Regions from separate parts of the Homo sapiens genome. Here region 1 is linked to region 2. A link means that fine-mapping ties the variant in region 2 to the expression of a gene that starts in the linked region. Tissue or cell type: testis. Region 2 holds a variant in brackets; the other region holds the start of a gene. All regions are shown on one strand. Distances are between the middles of the regions.

Region 1 (8,102 bases), 700 kb after region 2:
CAGGAATCAACAAGGCACGTCAACAAGTTCTGTCTTGAAGGGCGAGGATCTGAAAAATCACTTCACTATAAGCGTGAGCGAGTTCACGCACATGCATGCACACACACACATACACAGGAACCGCTGTCAGTTCTGGAGGGAAAAGTTTACATTCCCTGGGACACAAAACCGGTAGGGCAGTCAACAGTCCTGAATGTGGAAATTTAGCTTCGATACTTTATCAAAAGTCCTCTTCCTCTATCGCTTTGAAATCAATTCAAAGGCTGCCACTTCCAGGAAACTGATGCAGAGAGGAAAGGCTCACAGCCAAGGTGCTCATGGCACAGAACTGATTTATGTCCCCTCCTATGCAAATATAAAGTCTAATTAGTTTGTCTTGAAAGGGAAACAGACCAATAAGCAGGATGATCTACTGTCATCTGAGTTTTGAAGCTGTCTCTGACTTTCCCATCACAAGTGTGGATATAATCCTGCAATTACGATAAAGCTAATTGGTAGTTCCCTCCTGCATGTGTGTTTTCGTGTTGTCAGTGGGGCAGTAATGAAAATGAATGCCACATTTGTGAACAGACCGTCTGTGGGCTTATTTACCGCATTTCCAACAACATCGTCTGCTTTATCATACATTTCAAAGCAGGGATAATTTAAGTATCCAGAACTTCATGCATAAAAATACTTGGTAAGAAGGTCTCTCTCTGCACACTATTTGGGTGATGTTACATCCGAATTACAGTTTGCTGCCCAGGAAATGATTCACTTCACTCAAAAATGACCGGGGTTCTGAATCATTCACCTGTTATGCAAAACGCCTTTCAGGTCAACCAATTTGCACCTCGTGGACTTCACCACCATCATTTCACAGAGAGCACAAAGATGAGGCAAGCCTTGCCTCTCCCATCTACATGTTTCCCCAAGGAAAAGCATGGCAGCAATTCACTCCCACCCCTCCACACCCCGCCTTACCTTGAAGTAGCTTTTCCCCTTCTAGAATATTTTGGGAGATTAATGCCGTGTAATCATCTTCAGAGAACCCAGCCTTGCAGGTCTCTCTAGTTGTAAGATCCTCATTATGGGCCTGAGAACACAAAGGGGAGAGTGTAAAACAATAAGTTCACAGAAATTTAATCCAACCAACATTCATCCAGGGCCTGCTGTGTAAAAGGTCTCTGGCTAAGAGAGAAAGGCTGGCAGGCCACCGTCTCCACCCAGACGCGATACCCCGTCTGCTCCTCTGCTCTCTGGGGACTTTAGGGAGCACTCTCCAGGCTACAGACCAGGAGCATCCTTCCCCAGCCCCACACACAGCAGGCAGGGAGTGAAGGACGGACTGTTGGGGAAGCCAGGCCGGCCAGGGCCTTATTGGCAGAGGAGACGCCTGAGAAATGACCAAAAGGCAGAGACAGAAGACTTCAGCCGCTGCTCCCGAAGCCACTAAGGGCAGGGAGGCCAAAGTGTGGGCGGCTCTGCTCAGACCATTCGCGCTTTAGGCCCACCGCTCTGCGCTCTTGGTAAGGCGGAGGAGGCAGCTTCTTGTCTCCTCTCCAGGTCACCGGGAGGGAGGAGAAAGAGGAGAGAAAGGAAGAAGATTCTCTAGGACTAGGTCCGGAGCCGGTCGAAGAAGGCAGCTCTGCGGGAGGCTGCCGGTGGCTGGGGTGAGGAGGCAGTGGGGGCGCTTCCACCTTCTAGTCTTCAGCCCGCATTTTCACCCTCGGAGCCCCCATCTCCAGCCCAGGCAGGGAGACGGCTCCCCTAACTGACCGGAAAGGGGGTCTCCTCCTGTCCTCCGGAGCTCGCTCGCCTTTCCTGCTCAGTGGGGAAGTCTAGAGCCCATGGCACAGGGCCAGGGAAGGATGGGGTGGACGACAGGGCCCTCCGACCAAGCTTCTGGGAGGGGGCGTGACAGGCAGGAGGAGGTGGTGGAGGGAGAGGCAGTGTGTGCAAGCGGGAAGCCAGCCCCGCTGAAGGAGCAGGAGCACAGCGGTGCTTGGCTCCCCGGCGAGCGCAGGAAGCCTCGGGTGCAGCCCGCACCGGGCAGTGGCGCCTCCCGCCCGCCGCCTCCTCCAGCTCCGCGCGCTGCCGTCGCCCGCCCATGCTTCGACTCCGGAGGCCGCCCCCAGCCCGGAGCTCCAGGCTTCCCGACGCCGGCACCGCGGAGGGCGCCCCTCTACCCCCAGCACCGAGGGAGGAGAGCGGGACGCAGGGTCATTCCTTACGAAAAGCTCTAAACCGCGGCTTTCTTCATCGGCCACGAAGCTCCAAATCGCACCCGCAGCCCGGTGGGAGGCTCAACTCGCCCAGGAAAGTTTCCGCCCGCCCGAAGCGTGTGCCCAGCGCGTCCCCCAGCGCCCCGCGGCCTCGGAGCGGGCCTCCCGCCGCTGGCACTTGTTTATTTCCGAGGTTACAACAGCGCTGCCCGGGAGAAGGCAGCGAGGCCGATCGGCCACGAGAGGGGGTTCCTGCAACTCCCGCCGCCCCTCCGCCTCCGCCCAGGGGCGCCCCCGGAGCCGCCGCGCTCTCTGCCCCCGCGGGCCGCGCACCTCGCCAGGCGCAGAGCAAAGCTGGCAATCCGGCCCGCGGGGCTCTGCAGAGGCAGCGGGAGACCCGCTCGCCCTCCCGGGGCGCCCTCCCGCGCCGCGCCCGCCCGGCGTCCGGCTTCCCGGCCCAAGCCCGGCCCAGCTCCCAGCCCCCGGGGCCCCGCCGGACACGCAGGCTCCAGCCCCGCCGAGGGCTCGGGGGTGAGAGTGCCCCGCAGTCCTACCCCGCCGCCCACCCGCAGCGCGGGTCCTGCCGGCACCCACAGAACTGAGCGGCGCCGCTAGACGGACCCCCAGGCCTTGGGCAGGAGAGGTCGGGCAGGCGCCCCGCACTCGCGGATCCCTGGCCCGCAGCCGCCGGGCGCCCCACGCCTTCAGCCACGGCCGGGGCTGGGCTCGGCAACTCCCGCGGCGCGCGGCTCCCGGGCGATGGAGGGCGCGCCGGCTCCGCCAGTGGAAGCCTGCCCCATGCAGGCAAGCCGAGCTCCGGGTAGCGGCTACGGGCTTTGGGCGTTCGAGGGAGGCTCGGCGGGTCCGGTGCAGGCGGAGCTCCCCGGGTCCTCCACCGAGCCCCACTCCCACCCTGCTCCGCCGCTCCCCGCTGCCCAGGCGGCTTCCCGCTCCTGCCGACCGCAGGCAGCTTCGCCGAGCGCGGGCGCCGGGCTGGATGCAGCGGGGAGCGCGGCGGGGGAGCCCGGGAGAGCCCCGCCGGGTGTGTGAGCGCCCCGCGGGATCCGGGGACGACCTCCCGCTGCCCGGGGCTTCCGAACGGCGGGGGCGGGAGGCGGCAACTTACCCGGAGCGCGCCGGAGAGCGAGAGCAGCAGAAGGAGCACGCCGGCGCCCGCGGTCATCTTCCCCGCCGCCCGCCCGGTGCCCGGCACCGGGAGCCCGCTCCCTGCCGCCGCCGCCGCCGCCGCCGCCGAGACCACCGCCGCCGCTCCGATCGCCGCCGCCGCCGCCGCTCCCCCGCGCCTGCCCGGAGCCTCCAGCCCCGCTGCGCCCGCCGCGCTCGCCGCCCCGGCTCCGGGAGCCAGGCCAAGTCCGGCCGGCGGCGCGTTCCCTCGGGCCGGTGCGTCCGCCGGCCTCGCAGCCGCCCGCGCCTCTGTTCCGCGCGCTCGGAGCTGCAGGTGAAGCCGCGGCCGCCCCGCCGAGGCCCCGCCCCGCCGCCCGGCCCCTGCGCTCGCTCTGCCGACGCGGGCCTTAAAGGCGCAGAGCCCGCGCCCGCGCCCCCCGCGCCGCACCAGCCCAGCCTCTGCCCTCCTGGACGTCTGGAGCCGCCCGGTTGCGGCCGAAGAGGCCAAGGACGCTCGTTTTCCAGGGGAAAAAGGCGCGGGTGTGGAGACTGAAGACAGCGCTGGGGTTTCCGCCCCCACACCCGGGGCACCCTTTCTGGATGGGGCGGTCCCGCCGCGGTCTTAGTCCGACTTCCCGCCCGGGCCCGCGGTGGGAGTGTGCACTTCCATTCTGTCCTTTTATTTTTCAGGTGTCTCCTTGCTAACTCCCCTGACCCGGGCTTGAACCCAGGTCGGGCAGCTCAGGGGTGAGAGTTTCCACCTGGAGCAGATGAGCAGAGGGCCACGCTGAGATTTCAGCCTGTGGGGCTTTGCAGACCCTCCCGCTCCTAGGAAAACTCAAAGCCCTGGCCTGGGCTAGGGATGTACCCTAGGATTGGGGACGGTAGTAATTCCTGTGTGTGCATCAAAACACCCTGTTAGGCCTCAGAAGCCAAGAAAGAAATTAGAAGCTCCAAGAAAGAAAGAAGTGCCCAGACAGGAGCTGTCAGGAGTGTCTGCGCCGACAGGCTGGGCCAGCTCCAGCTCCCTTTGCCCTGCATGGGTGATGGCTGAACTGGGGGGCACTTCTTTAAGGGTTATCAGGTAAAATATATGTACAGGTCGGACAGTGAGTAAATGTTTCTGCACTTTTCCTTTTGGCTTGGAGATTTAAAGAAACGCGGTTTTGTTTGTTCAGATACATCGAATTTTCTTTGTCTGGGGTTTCAGGGACTCTGTGTCCAGAATACATTAGTTCTGGTTTAAGAAATAGGTTGCAAAGGAGAGGGTGGAAGATTGAGTGACACTGTTGAGCTCCAAGATCAGAGTCCACTTGGGCAAGCCAGTAGAGAAAGCTACAGAGCAGCCGCTTCCCTCTCTCCCTCCCAGAACCCCCACCCTTGGGGGCAGGGTGGTCTCCCGGTTAGAGCTCTGCCTTACGCTTAAGGAAACCAGATTTTAGATAACCCCAGAGGACCAGAGTAAGCACTACATCCGAGAGCACAAGGCGAGATTCGGTTTTGCAACTTAACTATGGAACTAGTCAGGAGACACAAAATCTGCCCCAGCCTGGACTCCTATCAGTTATGGCCTTGTCCCACTCCCCACCTAGCCGAAGAAGGAGAGGTTACCAGTTGACATGGCTGGAGGTTTAGACTCACTCGAAGGTCCTGCGTAGCCAGTGAGGTTTCATGAACAGATCCATCCAAAATCCTCATGGACAGAGAATTCCATTCCTCGGCCATGTGCCCGTCCTTTGGGAAGACGCCCCCTCTGCTTTCCTCCTTATTCAAGGTGCTTCACCACTGCTCGAGCGACATCAGAAGCTGTCCAAGACTGCTTTAGACACCAAGACAGCTCTCTTGTCTTGTGTCCCTGGTCTATTTTCTTAAAATATCTGTCGCTGGGGATACACCTTTGTCTGCAGGAGGCCTGAGCATTATGCGAGTTATTTCTTTGGAGAGGCATCACAGACCCCCGCATTTGCTCCAACGTGCTCTGCGAAACTGTTGAAGCGCTGAGGAGCGCGCCAATTTGAAAAAGAAAAGGTATGAGTGTGTGGCAGGGAGACTGGGGTCCAGGAGCAGGTGGGTCCTGAACTCCAAACACTGTGTTAAGCACATCTCCCTCTACTACTGAATGAATCTTGAGTCTACTGCAGCGTGATTTCCAGAAAGGGTAGAGTTTGACAATAGCCTGTCCTTACAAGGTGCTAGCTATGTGCCAGGGACATGTGTAGGAGCTTTATGTAAAGTTGCTCTTGGAGTCCTTCTAACTCCACTATACAGTCAGGCAGAGGAGGGTGCAGAGGGCAGGCACGGGGAAAGCTGCAGTGCCAGCATTCTCACCCAGAGCTGGGACCCTGGCACACGCAGCATGGCCCCAACTTTGTTCAAAGAAACCTTCTTACACAGCTGTAATGTCTTACGGGAACTCGCATTTTCCGAAATACATAGTTTCAGAAACACTGCAGTAACTGACAGGAGTCCAGTAGAGAGCATTGGTTTATCAGACTTACTCTGAATGCAGCAGCAAAGATTGCTGAGACAGAAAAGAAAAATATGACCTAAAATACAAAGCAGTGCCTCCAAAGAATGGTCTTCAGCCTGTCACTCTGAGTGTGGTCCCCAGACCAGCAGCATCAAGATCCCCCAGGAGCTTGTTAAAAATGCAGAAACTCAGGCCTTACCCCAGACCTGCTACATTGATTCTGAATGCTGATGGGATTCCCCGCCACGCCCACCTCTGGTCTGCAATCATCTGCAACAAAATCACAGAGAAACTCATGAAAAATGCCAGTTCCTAGGCTCCACCTGAAATCCATGGACTTGGAGCTTTTGCAAGTGGGGCCTGGAAGCTGACCTTGTAACAATCTCTCCAGTCCATGCTCATGCCACTAGCATTTGAGAATCACGGCCTGTCCCACAGACAGTATGTCCCACGTAACAGAGCAGCAGCTGGAAGCATCAGAAAAATGCTCTCTCCTATGCCCCACCCTGGATTTCCAGAACCTGGACCTCCAGGGGTGGAGCCTGGGCCTCTGCCTGGGGTAGCTGGAGAAACCCTGGCACAGTGTTTGGCACATTGGCCAGTGGGACTGTGGCCTGCCTTTGGTCCACCCAGTGCAGGGAAGACCACAGCTGGCCTGGAGGAGGAGCTAGTCTCTCTGCACTTTGGATAAAGAGCCCTAGAAAAATGTGTGCGTTTGTTTCTAAGAGAGATTAAGAGAATGCATTTGGGAGGTAGTGTATAAGTGACTGTTTGCTCTCAACACCTGTAAACTGTTGACAGTAATTGGACTACAGATGTTTGCTAAGCTTGATAGACTTCTCTGTCTCCCTCTCGATGAGGTGAGTCTGGGAAGGGGTTCCTCTTTAGAAGCAAAAACCAAGTGCTTGTATCAGGGCCACATTTCCCTATATTCGTTGGATGTTAATTTGTTTCCTTCCCTATTGATAGTTATTATTGTAGACACTTCAATGTTCGACAAAAAGGCTGTTTTGTACAGAAAGCAGTGAGATGTTGGCAAAAGGTGTGTTCGTAGAATAAAACATTGTCTTTGTGGGCGATTGAAGATATTCAAGGCACTGTAGAAATGAATGGAATCAGCCTGCTACCCAGCTCAAGAAAACTCCCTGCATGCAATAGAGAAGAGCGATCTTAAAGCAAAAAGCAAAGGAGAGATTGAGAGGGGCGAGCAGGCAGCAGAGAGACCAGTACAGATCGCTCCCTGCCTTCCATTCCAATAACGCTCACCCGCTGAGGTGAAGCTACACTGGGAATAAAGAAAGGAATAGAGTTATTGTTGTAGGTTTTTCAAAATCTATCTTTCTCCATGAACAGGGATCCCTATGTACTGTGTGGCAGGTACTGTGTCGAAGGTTTTCAGTCATGATCCCATGCGATCCTCACATAGGACGGAGGTGGTGATGCCCATGGTCCACAGACAGGACAGACTTGGGTATGTGAGCAGCCTGGCCTGGGTCACCCGCCGGCACGGGGTGGGCTGAGATTCTACTCCAGGCAGCGTGACTTAGGACCTGGGGGCATGGCTGTGAGGTGCATCCCTTGGAAGCAGAAATCCCAGGGGGAAAGATGCAAATGTCCCCTTCCAACCTAGGGCTGTCTTCTTTCCTTTTCCAGTCTCATGCTCAGCCTGGCCCACTCGCCACCAGCAGAATCCTGACCCTCTAGTCCATCCAGAAGCACACGCCCCCATCCAGGCTCTGTGCCTGTGCCTCTGCTGCTCCCTCCGGAGCTCCTTTCTCTCGGAGCACTGTGTTGGCTTTAGCTGCTGCAGGGCTTGGTGGACACCTCTCTCCTCACAGTGTGGTGGAGCTCCTTTCTGTGTGTCCGCCCTCTGGCCACTCCGAGAGCCTTGAGGGTGGGGGAACAGGGTGTTCCCCTCTCCACATGTGGCCCAGGCTCTAACCCTCTAGGAGCCCCCAGGGGGTGGACCCATAAAGCAATGATACCAACGATGACCCCCACTGGCTGCACTGTACCCTGGGGTACTTCCTGCACTCCCCCATTATACAGATGAAGACACTGAGGCATGAAAAGAGGGGAGGAGCTTGACCTGGAACCCAGGGCTGGCTGAGTTCAGACTTACAGCCTTAGTCATGACTGTGCTCCAAAGAAGCACACCATGCACTCTGGGTTCTGAGGAAGAACCAGGTGAGGCTGCTTCTCTCACTCCCCTGGGACTTGGGGGTCTTTGAATCTTTGGAAATTTCCATGGAGCAGGAGATGCAATTCACAAGGGGAAAAAAATTCAAAACAAAACAGTCAAA
Region 2 (8,102 bases):
AGTAAAGACAGGGTTTCACCATGTTGGCCAGGCTGATCTTGAACTCCTGACCTCAGGTGATCCACCTGCCTCGGCCTCCCAGAGTGCTGGGATTATAGGCGAGAGCCACCGCGCCCAGCCAATTTAAAATTCTTTACCCAATGAAAACATTTTTTTCTTTAGAAAAGGTGAAATTAGTTTTTCAGAAACACAAAAATTGAAAGAGTTCATCGCCATCAGACCTGTGTCCCGGCAATGTTAAAGTGATGTCCCATTGTTACCGGGTGGAACGTCTTGACTGTGGGTTGTCCAGGTTCTTGGTGTGTTGAACAAAGAATTGAACAAAATGCACAAACAAAGCAACAAAAGAACGAAGCAATGAAAGGCAAGCAACGAAAGAAAGGAGTAACGAAAGCACAGATTTTTATTTATTTATTTTTAAAATGTTTACTGGAACGCCATGCATTGCCTTCATTTATTGTATTTCAAATCACTGTACATTTACTTTTGTGAAAACACTGCCTACATTTTCTACTACAAAAAAAAAACCTTAGAAATTGTTTCAGGAACGTGGATAACTAGTCGACTTAAATATTACCGCTGCACTACAGCCATTTCTGCAATTCCCGTTTCTTAAATAACTGTCTTGTCTGAAAACACACAATATATGGAGCAATTGTGAAAAACAGACATTTACATATACTTCTAAAGTCTTACTGAAAATGTCTTTTTGGCCCGGGATAACCAATCATAGGTGCGGCTGCAGTAGCAGGATATGAGGGTTCCTGTTGGTTCTTACCATCGTGCGTATTTGGAATATTATTTCTGTTTTGCTGAGTCGAAGGCACAGCTACATTGAGGCGGAAGTACATTCCGCAGAGTGGGAGCGGACTCGAGCAAGTGGCTCAAGACACTATCCCCCCCATTGCAATGCTCCCCAGGTTTTTATAAAGCTAAAAGATTTGGTAACACCCCTAGGTGCCCTTTAGAAGCCTCCCATTGGTTACACCCTATGAAGGATTGATCTGCGGCCAATCAGAGGCTGACGTGGAGGCTTCTGTCTTGTCATCACAGGGGTGGGGATGCGGCCTGTGTGCCGCCCAGTCTTGCCTGGAGCTGGCGGAGCCTGCTGCTCTTTTGCTTCTGCCTTAACCCTTGGTTACCCCAATTCCCTATTCTCCTGCCTCAGCATCCTCAACATATTAAGTAAGGTTAAAGTAAGCTCTGTAAGCAGAAGGAAAGTCATATCAAACGGACACAACAGTAAAGAAATAGCACCAGAAATGGCAACTATGTAGCCAAATATAGAGACGAACATTCCTGTGAGACAAGGGATTGGAACAGACTTCCCCAAAGAAGAAGTACAGATGGCAAATGAGCACACACAAAGATGCTCAGCGTCATTCGTCATCAAGGAAACACAAATTTGAACCACAGTGGGACACTGCTGCGCTCCTCCTGGAAAGGCTGGAATGTACAGGACGGACCATGCCAGCGCAGGGAAGGGTGTAGATTCGCTGGAACCCCCAGACCCTGCATGGGGGAGTGTAACATGCTACAGACATTTTAGAAATCAGCCTGGCAGTTTCTTGAAAAGTTACACCTCAGTCACCACGTGATCCAGCAGTTCCACCCCAGGTGGCCATCCAGGAGAAGGCCTCTGTCCATGTAAAGAACTTGACTTCGACATTCATAGCGGCTTTATTCATAATAGCCGTGAACGGGAGACAAGCCAAATACCCTTCAACAGGTGAATGGATAAAATAAATTGTAGTACACCCACATAAGGAAAGTTTTTCAGCTAGAAAAACAGAATGAGCTACCCCAGGGTGCAGCAACGATAACTCTCAAAAGCATTATGTTTGGTGATAGAGGACAGACTCAAAATGCTGCATCCTGGGTGGTTTCATTTATATGAAAGTCAAAACTACAGGAATAGCGAATAGAATACAGGAGCCCAGGGCGAGGGTGGAGGAGGGGATTGAGTGTAAAGAGGCCCAGGGAGGGAAAGTTTTGGTGTGATGGGAATGTTCCACGTAATCATCGTGCTGGTGGTTACACAACTAGTTTTGGTGTGATGGGAATGTTCCACGTAATCATCGTGCTGGTGGTTACACAACTGTGTACATTTGTCAGAACTCATCAAATTATATTTAAAATTGGTGAATTTTGTTGTATGTAAATTATACCTCAGAGAGTTTTGTTGTTGTTTTCTGAGACGGGGTCTTGCTCTGTCATCCAGGCTGGAGTGCAGATGTGTGATCACAGCTCACAGCAGCCTTGGCCTCCTGGGCTCAAGTGATCTGCATGCCTCAACTTCCCAAGTAGCTGGGACCACAGACGCACGTCACTACACTAGGATATTTTAAACAATTTTTTTTTTTAGTAGAGATGGGGTCTTGCTATGTTTCCCAGGCTGGTCTTGAACTGCTAGGCTCAAGCGATCCCCCGCCTTGGCCTCCCAAAGTGCTGAGGTTACAGGTGTGAGCCACTGTGCCCAGCTCTAGTTTTTATTTTATTTCAATAGCTTTGCACAGGTGGTTTTTGGTTCCATGGATGAATTGTGTAGTGGTGAAGTCTGAGATTTTAGTGCACCCATCACCTGAGTAGTGTACATTGTACCCAATAGGTAGTTTTTTTTTTTTTTTTTGAGACAGAGATTCGCTCTTGTTGCCCAGGCTGGAGTGCAATGGCATGATCTTGGCTCACCGCAACCTCTGCCTCCCAGGTTCAAGTGATTCTCCCGCTTCAGCCTACTGAGCAGCTGGGATTACAGGCGTGCGCCACCACACCCGGCTAATTTTGTATTTTTAGTAGAGATGGGTTTCTCCATGTTGGTCAGGCTTGTCTTCAACTCCTGACCTCAGGTGATCCGCCTGCCTCAGCCTCCCAAAGTGCTTGGATTACAGGGGTGAGCCATCACACCCGGCCTCCCAATAGGTAGTTTTTTGTCCCTCATCCCCATCCCTCCCTCCTCCTCTTTGATTCTCCAGTGTTCATTATACCACTCTGCATGCCTTTGTGTACCCACAGCTTAGCTCCCGCTTATAAGTGAGAACATACAGTATTTGGTTTTCTATTCCTGAGTTGCATCACTTAGAATAATGGTCTGCAGTTCCATCCAAGTTGCTACAAAATGCATTATTTCATTCTTTTTATGACTGAGTTGTATTTCATGACATATATATGTGTGTATTTCATTATCTGTCTGTCCGACCATCCGTCCGTCCATCCTTCCATCCATCCATCTATCTATCTATCTATCTATCTATCTAAATCTATCTCACACTTTCTTTATCTGCTCATCAGCTGATAGGCACTTGGGTTGGTTCCATGTCTTTGCAGTTGTGAATTGTGCTGTGATAAACACACATGTGCAGGTGTCTTTTTGAGGTAATGACTTCCTTTCCTTTGGGTGGATGCCCAGTAGAGGGATTGCTGGGTCGAATGGCTAATCTACTTTTAGTTCTTTGAGAAATCTCCATACTGTTTTCTATAGAGGTTGTATTAGTTTACATTCCTGCCAGCAGTGTGTAAGCATTCCCTTTCACCACCTCCACACCAACATCTATTGTTTTTTGACTTTTTAGTGAGGCAGAAATTTAAAAATAAATATGCATTCATTCACTCTAAGAAAAGTAACAGGCAAGGCAAAGGTTAAAAAGAAAAGAACAAGTTTTCCTCTGCCTAGCAGGGGAAAGTGCAGCAGGCTCACTTCAAGGACAGTTATAAGATAACACTGTTTGAGTAGCCACCGCCAAAGGAATGGGCTCCAGACACCCCCACTCCAGAGCAAGGTTGAGGG[A/GA]AAAAAGAAAGACAAATTCTTTTACTGTTACTCCTTTCCCAGGCTTCTTAAGCATGATTATGTTTTACAAATGTCTGTATTTAGCTAGTTCTTGTTTTTCTTTTGACACAGCTGTGAGGTCACTAGCTATGCAAGGCCACAAGTTATGCTAAGTCAACAGTTACGCTATAGATTACGTGACCTGTCACTGTACGATTAACTGCTTTGTTTTACTCTTGTAAGTCCGCTTATAAAAACCCTGCTCAGTCTTTGTTCAATGCTCAGCTTTTTGGATGTGAGTCCTCTGAGCCGGTACGTACCTAAAATAAACAACAATCCTCCTGTACTCCATAGTGGTCTCTCCGTTCCTCAGTTTACCGCAACATTAATAATGGCCATTCTGGCTGGAATAAGGTGGTATCTCATTGTGGTTTTAATTTGCATTTCCCTAATGATTAGTGATGTCAAGCATTTTTCATGTGTTTCTTGGCCATTTGTTTATCTTCTTTTGAGAAATGTCTATTCGTGTCATTTGCCCACTTTTTAATGAGATTGTTTTTCTTTTCTTGCTGATTTGAGTTCCTTGCAGATTCTGATTATTAGTTCTTTATCAAATGCATAGTTTGCAAACATTTTCTCCCATTCTGCGGGTGTTCTGTTTACTCTAATGATTCTTTCTTTTGCAGTGCAGAAGGTTTTTAGTTTAATTAGGTCCCACTTATTTATATTTGGTTTTGTTGCATTTGCTTTTGGGGTCTTGGTCATAAATTCTTTGCCAAGGCTGATGTCCAGAAGAGTTTTGCCTAGGTTTTCTTCTAGAATTTTTATGGTTTCAGATCTTAGATTAAAGTCTTTAATTCATTTGAGTTGATTTTTGTATATGCTGAAAGATAGGTATCCAGTTTCATTCTTCTACACGTGGCTCACCAGTTTTTCCTAGCATCTATTGAATACGGTTTTGTTTGCTTTATCAAAGATCAGTTGGTCGTAAGGATTTGGCTTTATTTCTTCATTCTCTATTCTGTTCTATTGGTCTGTTATCTACTTTTGCACCAGTATCATGCTGTTTGGTAACTATAGCCCTGTAGTATAGTTGGAAGTCAGGTAATGTGATGCCTCCAGATTTGTTCTTTTTGCTTAAGATTGCTTTGCCTATTGAGGCTCTTTTTTGGTTCCAAATGAATTTTAGCATTGTTTTTCTAATTCTGTGAAAAAGGAATGTTGGTATTTTGATAGGAATTGCACTGAATCTGTAGATTGCTTTGGGCAGTTTGGTCATTTTCACAATATTGATTCTTCCAATAAGTGAGCATGGGATATATTTCCATTTGTGTCATCTGTGATTTCCTTCAGCAGTGTTTGTAGTTCTCCTTGTAGAGATCTTTCACCCCCTTGGGTACATATATTCCTAGGTATTTTATTTTTTTGCAGCTATTGTAAAAGGGATTGAGTTCTTGATTTGATTCTCAGCTTGGTCATCGTTGGTGTATAGCAGTGCTACATTGATGTTGTGACCGAGGCTTTACTGAATTCATTTATCGAATCTAGGAGTCTTTTGGAGGAGTCTTTAGGGCTTTCTAGGTATAAGATCATACCATTGGCAAACAGGTAGTTTGAATTCCTCTTTTCCAATTTGAATGTCCTTTATTTCTTTCTCTTGCCTGATGGCTCTGGCTAAGAAATTCAGCTAGTTTGCAAAAGCAAAGAAAAGAGGGTATCAGCCTGGGAAAAGGCATACAGGAAGATAGCTCAAAGTGAGCACATTAGATTCAGGGCGAACAGGTGTGTGTGGAGTAGGGTTTGAGGGCTACTGAGTGGAACTCTCAGATCGCAGAGGGAGGACCCATTCTCCCCCACCATCGGGGTGGCTGGGCTGGTCATTGTGGGGAGCTGGCTCGTGGCCAGCGTGGATGTCCTCCCCTCTGTGAGTTGGCTCTCTGCCCCGCGCCACCAGGAGGATGTCCTTTGTTATTTCACACTCAGCCTGCACGTGGGCAGCAGATGCAGGAGACAAGGAGACACGGGACACCTGGGGGTAGGTTTGGGATGGGCAGGTGGAGAATCCGTCTTAGTTGGTGGTAATGGAATGGTTTTAGTAGGTGGAAGTTACAAAGAAGCTTGTTTTGGTTTACCATGGAGTACAAGGGTACCATGGGGAGCCGAGCTGTCCAAATACAGAACTGGCTCTTTGCAGGCTGTCTGGTTGAGTGTGTGTTGGGGATGTTGCTGAGAGGATCTTGTCCTGCTGAGGGCTAGATAGGGCTCTTGAACGGTCCAAGTCAGCTTCCCATGAGGGGTCCCAGGGCCCCACAGCATCCGAGACTGAACCTGACAGGCCCACGGAAGGGCTGGTAGCTAACAGTCAGCACCCCAGCTGCAGTGGGACCCCTTGGCCTCCCTCCTGGGCTCCAGCTCCAGGCCTGGAAGGGCTGAACAGGCGGATGCAGTCCCAGCTGACAGGAAGTCTGAGGAGCAGCTTGTAATGAGCTTCGTTGGCTGACAGGTTTTTTTTTTATTAAAAAAATTTGTTTTTTTTGAGACAGAGTCTCGCTCTGTCACCAGGCTGGAGTGCAGTGGCATGATCTTGACTTGCTGCAAACTCTGCCTCCTGGGTTCAAGCAATTCTCCTGCCTCAGCCTCCTGAGTACCTGGTATTACAGGCATGCACCACCACCTGGCTGATTTTTGTATTTTTAGTAGAGACGGGGTTTCGCCACGATGGCCAGGCCAGTCTCAAACTCCCGACCTCGGGTGATCCTCCCGCCTCAGCCTCCCAAAGTACTGGGATTACAGGCGTGAACCACCGCGCCCAGCTGGCTGACAGTTTTATGTTACCACGAGTGCAGCTCCTTGTCAGGGCAGGTCTGTGATTGTGCTACGGCTCATTAACGAGATTGCAAATCATGCGTCTCTCCTGTGTGTGCCCACTCCCCCTGCAGGCCTCCGTGGCACTCAGTAAGCAGCGGGCTCAGGGAGAGCGTCCTGGATGGTCACCATGCAGGTAAGATGAGGAGGACACTTGGAACCAGGCATTGGATGCGAGCCCCACCCCATGGGAGGGGGACGGGGGGATGCTGGGCACCAGGGGGACCTGTGGGCCAGCTGGCCCTGGGCTTGTGCTTGGGGAGTGAATGATGGGTTCTGACCCCCATGCACCCCTGTGGGCCCCTGGCATCACTGGCCCCATCCTTCACCCCTGCCAACCACGCTTGCCCTGTGCCTCTGAAGCTCCCCCACTAAGGGGGTGGAGTCTAATTCCCTGCCCCTTGACTGTGGGTTCAGCCATGTGACTTGCTTTGACTGAGGGGATGTTCACGGGGCATGTGGTGCTCTGAACTGAGAGCTGCGGTGACCAGGCTGCTGTCCTGTGTTGCTGCCATCAGTGAGGGTGGCTAGCCTGCTGGTCAGGGGGAGGATGAGGGAGTGGGGGGCAGAGCTCAGCTGCCCCAGCGGCCTGGCCTGGACCAGCCAACCAAATGCTGACTCTGTGCTGCTGAGATCGTGTTTGTGTTTGTTACTCAGCAACTAGCTGATACACGGTCCCAGCAACAGACAAGGAAGCCCAGAGGTAGCTAAGTGACACTCCCAAGGCTACACAGCATCTCCTACTGGGAGCTGTGTAAGAAATGACCCCCCCCAAACCCTCCATCCTGGCAGCTGAGGGATGAAGGAGAGACCCAGTCCTCCTGTTGTCCACCTCCTCAATATCTAGGTGGGACCCCTACAATATCTTGATTTTTTAATGTTGACAATTGTGGTCAGCTGAAAAATCCCCCCCCCCCCACCCCCACCGCCCTAAAAGAAAAACAGCCCGTGAAGGTGACCTTATTTGGAAATAGAGTCTCTGCAGATATGATCAAGTTGAAGGTCTCAAGATGAGATCTTTCAGGACTAGTCATAGGCCCGAAATCCAATGGGAAGTGTCCATATGTAAGAGGGAGATGGAGGGAGGTTACACTAAGATGAAGTGAAGATGGAGGTGGAGACGGGAGTGATGTGGGCGTGAGCCAAGGAACTGGAGGCTGGAAGAGGCAGTGAGGGCTCGTCCCCTAATTCCCCGGAGGGAGCTCAGCCTTGCCGACCCCTTGATTTCGGCCCAGGGATACTGATCTCAGACTTTTGGCCTCCAGGACTGGGAGAGCATAAATGTCTTTCTTTTAAGCCACCGAGTTTGTGGGACTTTGTTACCTCAGGAAACAAATACAACAGTATATTCAACACTGTGAAGTGTGCTGTGCCAGGTGGACCGTGCCTGAGGCTGGGCCGGCCTGTGGTCTGCAGCATTGACCCCTTCTGAGCCCCCTGAGGGAGCCCCTGCCTGCCCCAGGCCAGGGTCTCA

Which allele goes with the higher level. Alleles are on the strand shown, and positions count from the first base shown. SD is a standard deviation of normalised expression in the study named.
In carriers of allele GA in region 2, the expression in testis of the gene that starts at base 3,640 in region 1 tends to be higher than with A alone (moderate effect, 0.54 SD a copy in GTEx).

Evidence for each region. PIP is the estimated chance that this variant, and not a neighbour inherited with it, causes the effect.
Region 1: it holds the start of CDH4, and the variant in region 2 is fine-mapped to the expression of CDH4 in testis (GTEx, PIP above 0.99).

The regions. Positions count from the first base shown.
Region 1 is chr20:61,247,799-61,255,900 of GRCh38, reverse strand. CDH4 (cadherin 4) reads right to left here and starts at 3,640. Exons shown (of 16, transcript NM_001794.5): 1 at 3,331-3,640; 2 at 964-1,075. The coding sequence starts at 3,387. RefSeq lists an enhancer at 844-1,536.
Region 2 is chr20:61,952,429-61,960,530 of GRCh38, reverse strand. It overlaps MIR1257 (microRNA 1257), which reads left to right and starts at 6,869; the gene lies at 6,869-6,985. RefSeq lists enhancers at 6,361-6,860, 7,671-8,102. The variant A/GA (reference allele first, on the strand shown) is at 3,785.